2 separate regions of the Homo sapiens genome follow, and region 2 is linked to region 1. The links come from fine-mapping of genetic effects on gene expression. Tissue or cell type: whole blood. Region 1 holds a variant in brackets; the other region holds the start of a gene. All regions are shown on one strand. Distances are from middle to middle.

Evidence for each region. PIP is the estimated chance that this variant, and not a neighbour inherited with it, causes the effect.
Region 2: it holds the start of PRR22, and the variant in region 1 is fine-mapped to the expression of PRR22 in whole blood (INTERVAL, PIP above 0.99).

The regions. Positions count from the first base shown.
Region 1 is chr19:5,811,236-5,815,393 of GRCh38, forward strand. The region is part of intron 1 of NRTN (neurturin); the gene reads left to right. Among named protein-coding and RNA genes, the nearest start is that of NRTN, 8.2 kb to the left of the region's middle. The variant C/T (reference allele first, on the strand shown) is at 2,331.
Region 2 is chr19:5,782,948-5,787,105 of GRCh38, forward strand. PRR22 (proline rich 22) reads right to left here and starts at 1,799. Exons shown (of 3, transcript NM_001134316.2): 1 at 1,584-1,799; 2 at 1,430-1,492; 3 at 13-1,106. The coding sequence starts at 1,713. The coding sequence ends at 31. It overlaps DUS3L (dihydrouridine synthase 3 like), which reads right to left. Exons shown (of 13, transcript NM_020175.3): 8 at 4,114-4,158; 9 at 3,802-3,898; 10 at 3,520-3,595; 11 at 2,656-2,844; 12 at 2,436-2,564; 13 at 2,193-2,328. The coding sequence ends at 2,256.

The DNA.
Region 1 (4,158 bases):
AAAAAAATAGAGGTTTTGCAGCCATTGATTGGATAATAAAAGAAAAAAGAATATGGAGGGAGGAGTGTTGGAAGTGAGTCTTTGAGGAATGAGTAGGAGTTTGCTGACCACCTGTGTTCAAATCCCAGCTCAGCCACTTAGGTTGTTTGAATCTGAGCAAGTTACTTCACTTCTCTGGACCTCAGTTTTCCACCTACCAAATGGGGATAAAATAGTCCATACCTTGATACAAGTTACTACATGTAAAGTGCTTAGAATGGCACTAATAGTGTTGTTCATGAGTGTTAGTTTCAGTTATTATTACTATTATTATTAGAGACGGAGTCTCGCCCTGTCGCCTAGGCTGGAGTGCACTGGCGCGATCTTGGCTCACTGCAACCTCCATGTCCTTGGTTCAAGTGATTCTCCTGCCTGATCCTCCTGAGTAGCTGGGACTGGTGGAGTGCACCACCACACCCGGCTAATTTGTTTTTTGTTTTTTTTTTTTGTATTTTCAGTAGAGATGGAGTTTCACCATGTTAGCCAGGCTGGTCTCGAACTCCTGGCCTAAAGTGATCCACCTGCCTTGGCCTCCCAAAGTGCTGGGATTACAGCTGTGAGCCACCGCACCCGGCCCAGTTATTATTATTATTATTTTATTTATTTATTTTTTTGAGACAGAGTTCGCTCTGTTGCCCAGGCTGGAGTACAGTGGCGCGATCTTGGCCCACTGCAAGCTCCGCCTCTTGGGTTCACGCCATTCTCCTGCCTCAGCCTCCCAAGTAGCTGGGACTACAGGCGCCCAATACCACGCCCAGCCAATTTTTTTTGTATTTTTAGTAGAGACAGGGTTTCACCATGTTATCCAAGATGGTCTCGATCTCCTGACCTCGTGATCCACCCGCCTCGGCCTCCTAAGTGCTGGGATTACAGGTGTGAGCCACCGTGCCGGGCCCAGTTATTATTATTATTATTATTATTTTACCACTATTATTATCATGAAGGAGCCACCATACTCCTCCCCAGAAACCACTATCCCTGACCATCCATCCCTCAGCTTCACTTTGGCAAAGACAGACCCAGAGTCCCTCAAGACAAGCTCATGTGCTGGGACTTGATGCCCAGGGTAGCAGGAAGCCAGCGATAGTTCTAGCAGTTGGGCAGCACTCAGCTTCTGTGCTGGGGGAAGAAGAGGAGAGGCTGGACCTCTTTCTCCGGCAGACCTGGAAGGGGCGGCTGGGGGTGTCTGTGTCTGCACCCCCTGACACATGAAGCCACCCCTAGGTTGGCCTCTGGCCCCCGCAGACGCAGTATCGGAACCAGCTGTGCTTGCCAGATGTTCCTGGTTTGCCCCCAGATGTGTGTCGCCAGTTCGAGGCTGTCCTGGCTGCCTCATCCCTCCCATGGGGTGGGCCCAGGCCCTGGGGCCCTCTGAGGGAGGGGGCACATTTTTGTGGGCTGTGGAATTTGTTTTGTGTTTTGCAGAATCACTGAGTCTTGCCTTGAGAGGCCCAGACCCCTGGCCAAGTCTTGCCCCTCATGGGGCCTCAGTTTCTCCACCAGTGGAACCTCAGGGAACTCCTAGGGGCGATCTAGGAACAGGAGACCAGGAGGCTGCCCTAGGAACAGGCCCAGCTGTGAGCCCTCGAGCTATCAGCACTTGGGGAAAACAGAGGCACAGGCGCGCGAACACATGTATGCCGCGGCGTTCACACACACAGGCACTTCCCCACTGGCATGTTCTGGCTTCACGGCCTGGCATCCTCTACCCATGGGCAGTGGCAAGAGCACAAGAGCCACTTGGTCAAGCTCTTCCAGGTCCTCTCTGGCTTTCCTACAGTGCTGGGTGGCACCCTTCGTGCCCTATTGAAGATGGGAGGCCAGGCATGGTGGCTCACACCTGTAATCACAGCACTTTGGGAGGCAAAGAAGGGAGGATCGCTTGAGGCCAGGAGTTCGAGACCAGCCTGGGTAACATGGCGAGACTTTGTCTCTATTAAAAAAAATTTTTTTTAATTTAAAAAAAAAAACAGATGGAGGCTGGGCACAGTGGTTCATGCCTATAATTCCAGCACTTTGGGAGGCAGAGGCGGGCGGATCACCTGAAGTGAGGAGTTTGAGACCAGCCTGGCCAACATGGTGAAACCCTGTCTCTACTAAAAAATATAAAAGTTTGGCCAGGCGCGGTGGCTCACGCCTGTAATCCCAGCACTTTGGGAGGCCGAAGCGAGCGGATCACTTGAGGTCAGGAGTTTTAGACCAGTCTGGCCAACATGGTGGAACCTCGTTTCTAATAAAAATACAAAAAAATTAACCAGGCATGGTGGCTTATGGCTGTAATCCTACCTACT[C/T]GGGAGGCTGAGGCAGGAAAATTGCTTGAACCTGGGAGGCGGAGGTTGCAGTGAGCTGTGATCATGCCACTGCACTCCAGCCTCCAGCTTGGGCAACAGAGCAAGACTCCGTCTGAAAAAAAAAAAAAGCCAGGCATGGTGGCGCACACCTGTAGTCCCAGTTACTCGGGAGGCTGAGACAGGAGAATCGCTTGAACTCGGGAGCCAGAGGTTGCAGTGAGCTGAGATCGCACTGCTGCACTCCAACCTGTGTGACAGAGTGAGACTCTGTCTCAAAAGACAAAATACAAAAATTAGCCAGGCATGGTGACAGGCATCTGTAGTCCCAGCTGCTTGGGAGGCTGAGGCAGGAGAATGGCTTGAACCTGAGAAGCAGAGGTTGCAATCAGCTGAGATAACACCATTGCGCTCCAGCCTGGGCAACAGAGCCAGACTCCGTCTCAAAAAATATATATATATATGGGGAAACTGAGTCACAGGAGGACCAGGAGTGAAACGGAGAGGAAGGAGAAGTGTATGCAGGGCAGCACCCCCACAGGCAAAAGTGTGCAGACTTGGGATCTGCAGCAAGCTCACCCCTCTGTAAACTGAATTCTCAAAGTCAGCCCTGTGCCCTGCAAAAACTCAGCCGAAGATGTCCCTCTAGAAACTCCCATCCAGCAAAGACAGTCATGGGCACAGACACCACGCTTACAGGGCTGGGCAAGAGGAAGGCACCCATGGCTGGGGGTGGCCAAGATGGGTAGCAGGGAAGGGTTTCTGGTGGAGGGGCTGTAGGAGCTAGGGCTTTCAGGGTAGAGTAGGAGTTTGCCAAATTAAGATAGGCCCCAATTCCAGGCCTCCCCAAGATTAGAAGAGATGCCTACATGGAGAGAGGGTCCCCCTCCCTTTCTTCATCTCTCAGGTGCTACTCTTTGAGATCGGGAGTTCTGTAGGACAGAGGCTTTTATCCCTGGGACTGGGTGTGCCCGGCAGGTGTCCCCTGGGGAGTTCGGTGGGAAGGGGAGTGGGGGTGCCAGGGCGTTGCCTGTGCATAAAGATAATGAGCAACATTTCCTGGCATCACCAAGGAAGGTGCCAGAAACACACACCCTTGCGCTGGCTGTCTGTTGCTTTGGTTGATTGGAAGGGCCTGCCTAGCTGTGTGACGTTGGGCTGCTCTTTGCCTCTCTCTGAGTCCATTTCCCTTCTTTCCCCTTCCTTCCCCAGCTGTGGGGATTGTGTGGCCTCCAGCTAAAAGTGGAGGTCTGTCCTAGGTCCTTCTTGCTGCACCTCACACTGCTACGCTCCCAGCCCCTCCAGGAAGGAAGGAGGCTTCCCTCCCTCCAGGCAATGCAGGTTCTCCAGGATTTCTACGTTTTCTCCAGGACTGGGAAGGGATCTCTAGCCAGGCCCTGCACAGGCAATGTAGACGGCACCTGGGATCCCTGCAGGGGTGGACACGGGCAGTGGTCAGGGCGGGGCCGTTCCCTCCTGAGTCCCCCGGCCCCATCTGCTTCCCCTCCTCTCACTCTCCTCCCACCGTGTCTGTGCGCCCTGGAATCTTTGCAGCTGTGGGCGTTGGTGGCGTGTTCACCTGTGCACCCCTGTGTGTGTGTGTGGCCAGGAGGAGGGTCTTGGGGACCTTGGCCAGAGCACAAATGACAATGGATGCTCTTGTGTGTGTCTCTGTGAGACCGGATTACCACGTGTGAGTGGGGAAAACCTGTGTGTGTAAGTGGGATCATGCTTGAGTGTGAGTGTGAAAACACCCTGGTTTTTCACTGTGGGGTTGTTCAAGTGTGTGTGTGTGTGTGCAAACACCAGCACGTGGATATAACGTTTCACC
Region 2 (4,158 bases), 28 kb before region 1:
TGGACATGGAGCTGAAAGGTCAAATGTGCTTTAATGCGGGGTGGCTCCCAGGTCCTCCCTGGGCCCCGGGGGAGTGGCGCTGGCTGGGCCTGCCGGCTGCCTGGCCTTCCTTCCCGGCTTTCCCTTCTTGGCCGTCGAGGCCTTTCTCTTGCCAGACAGAATGGGGGCCGGGGTGTTGGTGGCAGGGGGCCCCGGGTGGGGCGGCTGCTCCTCGTCGAGCGCCTTGAAGTTGAAGAAGTAGTCAACGTTGGACACGGTGTCCAGGATCTCAGGCACGCTGTAGTCAAAGGACAGCAGCTCCTCGGGCAGGCACAGCGAGCGGATGTCATCGGCTGAGTTCCCACCACTGCTGTCAGGCAGGGCCGGCCCAGGGACCTCGCACAGGGTACCCTCAGGCTCAGAGGCGCCTGGCAGGCAGTCGAAGAGCTTCATGGCGTCCTCCAGCAGAACCTTGTCAGGCAGTGCCAAAGCTCTGGCCGTCTTGGGGGCCTTGGCCTTGCCTGCTCCCAGCAGGGCCCCCTCCTTGACCTCGGCCACCTTGAGCTCGCTGAGGCCCGGTGGGTACAGGGGCACCCCAGGTCGGGCCCCACTGCCCTGCAGCTCCTTGACGGGGAAGGCCAGGGGTTCGGGCCCAGGGAAGTGGCCGAGGTGACCCTGGAGGTGGCTGTAGGCGTCTGGGGGCAGTGTGGGCTCTGCAGGCAGCGTGATGAGTACAGGGGGCGGCTTGTTCTCCTTGGGGGGTGGGGGTGGCAGCGGGGCCGGGCCTTCCTCTAGGGGCGGTAGGGGCAGCTCCACGAAGGCGGCGGGCCCTGCGTCCCCCACAAAACCCAGAGCCTCTGGCCCGGGGCCCTCAGGCGGGAAGTAGGGCAAGAGAAACTGGGGCCCCCCGGGTGCCTGCTGGTAGTGGGGGTATGGAGGCAGCCCCGGGGCCTTGAGGTAGGGCTGAGGCTCCAGGAGGTAGCTGCCTGGGGCGGAGGGGACCCCCGCTGGCCCCCCGCTGCTTGCTGCCAGCTTATACAGGGCTGACTGGCCCAGGTCGGGGGTGGTCCACTCGATCCGATAGATGCGGGGGTCGAAGAAGCACCCGCATGGGGCCATCTGGAAACCTGTGGGCGGCAGGCGGGTGCCCTGAGAGCAGCTGCTGCCTGAGGGGCCCAGCCCAAGCCTGGGGGCCTGTTTGGGAGATGCCACAAGAACCTTGCCATTGGGGGGCCCCTTTGGGGGACGACATAGATATTGCTTTGGGGCCCTGGCTGGGTGATGGATGACACAGAGCTTGTCTTTGGGGCTCATCTGGGGGACCTGTGTGAAGCATGGGGAGCAGAGGCCATGCCTTCAGGCTCCCACTTAGGGACGGGGCAGGGGCAAGATGGGCCTGCACACTCAAACCCACTCCCAGCCTCGTCAAGGGCTCAGGGGAGGCCGGTACCTGCTGGTGGGGCTGGAAACACCTCTTTCTCTGGGTCTGGGGGATGATACAGGTTCAAGGAGCCTGTGGACAAAGGTGCCCAGGTGGGTAGGGCCCTTAGGCGGGTGGGCCCCTGAACCCTCTCCAGCAGGTGCTCCCACCCACCCGATCGTACCCATAGCGGGAGGAGGCTCGGCACAGGTGGGAGCAGGCTGGTTGCCCAGCACCTCAGCCCCCTCCAGACTCTGCGGGCTGAAACCTTCCTGGGGAGCTGCAGGGGCACAGAACGGTTTGGGGTGCTGCATGGGGCAGCGGGGGGCCCGGTCCAGACAGGCCAGGAGGGCGGCAGTGGGAGTGCAAGTGGCCCAACCGGAGAACAGGCTGAGAACCTGGTGGGGTTCTGTTTGCCTGGTTACTCGGGGCAGCGGGTTCCAGCCTGCAGCGCGCCCACTGGTTGGGGTTCTGGGTGTTGGGGGCAAGCAGGGGCAGACGTTGGCAGACATGGTCATCACCATGGGAGGGAGGATTCTGGGCCAGGCCTTTGCCTCTTCCAGCAACACCCCCCTAACAGCTTTGAGGCCGCCTCCTCCAGGCAGGCTGCCCTGATCCACACCCACACAGGCTGAGGCCCCCCGGGTCCTCAACCCGCTACCTTCTTGGGGGTCAAGGCCTCTCTGGGCACCAGCAGCACCCAGCTTGGGGCAGGGCCCATGGAGGCAGCTAAGAGGTTTGGGGAAGGTGGGGGCCGAGGAGGGGCTGCTTCAGGGTCACAGAAAGGCCTGGATTTTAAAAGAATAAAATTTATTGTACTCTCCTCGCCCCAGGGTGCCCCTGGGAAAGCCTGAGGCTACTTGTACGCGTTGGCCTTGTGCTTCGGCAAGAAGGCGAAGCTGGGGGGCACTGGCCCAAGGAGCATCTCGCTGTGGGAGAGCAGGTGGAAAGCGAGGTCAGGCCCAGGACCTGCAAAGTACCCTCCGTGACCCCGGGCCCCCGACTGCAGCTCCCCAACTCCAGCCCACCCAGGCACCTGATGCGGATCCAGTCGGCTGCCTTCTGGCTGGCCATCAGCGTCTCCAGGTAGTCGCGGCCCAGGTAGTAGGGCGGCCGCTCGTTGATCCTCTGTGGGAGCCGCTCCAGCAGCCCCACGGGCACGTACCTGCGGCGGGTGGGCGGGCAGGACAGGCTTGAGTCAGCTCTAACCAGCCGCGGCCCACGCGCCGCCCACCCCAGCCAGCCCCGGTGCCCACCGGCACAGGAAGGACAGCCACTCGAGCAGAAAGCGCCGGGTCTTCTCCACGCCCTGCGTGTCCGAGCCCCAGTGCTCCAGGCCGTAGTTGGTGAAGTCCCGCAGGATGTCCAGGCGCTCGGACGACGAGATGTCCCAGTGCCGCTGCTCCTTGATCTCCGTGAAGAGCCACGGCTTGAGCAGGGCGCCACTGTGGGACGGGTGACGATCAGTGGGCCCAGCCACCAGCCTGCCTGGGATCGTGTGGCCTCTGCTTCCATGGCCTGGCCTGAGCCGGAGCCCAGACCACAAAACCTACAAGCCTAGTAAGCCTCCCAGCTGCATGCACACAACCTTCAAAGCACAGGACTTTCTTTTGTTTTTTCTGAGACGGAGTCTGGCTCTGTCGCCCAGGCTGGGGTGCAGTGGTAAGATCTCGGCTCACTGTTCAACCTCCGTCTCCCAGGTTCAGGCAATTGTCCTGCCTCAGCCTCCCTAGTAGTTGGGATTACAGGCGTGTACCACTACACCTGGCTAATTTTTGTATTTTTAATAGAGATGTTTCACCATGTTGGTCAGGCTAGTCTTGAACCTCCGACCTCAAATGATCGGCGTGCCTTGGCCTCCCAAAGTGCTGGGATTACAGGCGTGAGCCACACACCTGGCCAAAGCCCAGGACTTTCAACCCACAATCATCAGATCCCACAGCAGCAGCAATTTCCAGTCCCCTCTGCCGCAACGCAGCTGCAACTCCTGACATCGCTCTCTGCTCCTCCCATCTTGGGACCAACAGCCCACCACAGAACAGGGGTGGGTGACGGCGTGTTGGGTTCAGGGCACTGCTGCTGTGCATGAAGCTGGATCTCTAACATCCCTGGGCACTTACCGGGCAATCATGATCCCGGTGACACCAGTCTGCATGGCGCGGTTGGCATCCTCAAATGACAAGATGTCCCCATTTCCTGAGGAGACAGAGGCTGGGGTCTCAGGGAGACATGGGCAGGTGGGACCCTGGAGTTCTGCTCACCAGCCCTTCAGGAGTTTTGGCTGACCCAGTGGCTCCCATCAGGGTGGTACGAGGGGGTCCCAAGTGGGAAGGCGAACAGCCCAGAGGTGTGAGTGACCAAGGGTGGTAGGGGAGAGGGAGGTGGCTTCCCGGAACACCCACCGAACAGGGGCATGGGGCTGGCGGCCTGCACGCACTCCTCGATGTACTGCCAGTCGGCTAGCTTGGTGTAGCGCTGCTCCCGAGAGCGGCCGTGGAGCTGGGGGAGAAGCCGCCACGCAGGGTAGGAGGCAGAGAGTGAGACGCAGAGAGGAAGAGACCAAGAGAGCCAGGCTGAGAGAGACAGAGAGAGACACAGGCGGAGACAGAGGGAGGTGTGGAGGTGAAGAGGGAGGGATGGGAGGAGAGGAGCCATTAGGAAGGGACGCGGGGTCGACCGCGAGGCCCCAATGCCCGAGGCGTCCCAAGACCCACCGTGACGAGTGCCACGCCCCAGTCCCGCAGCTCGGGCAGCAGGCG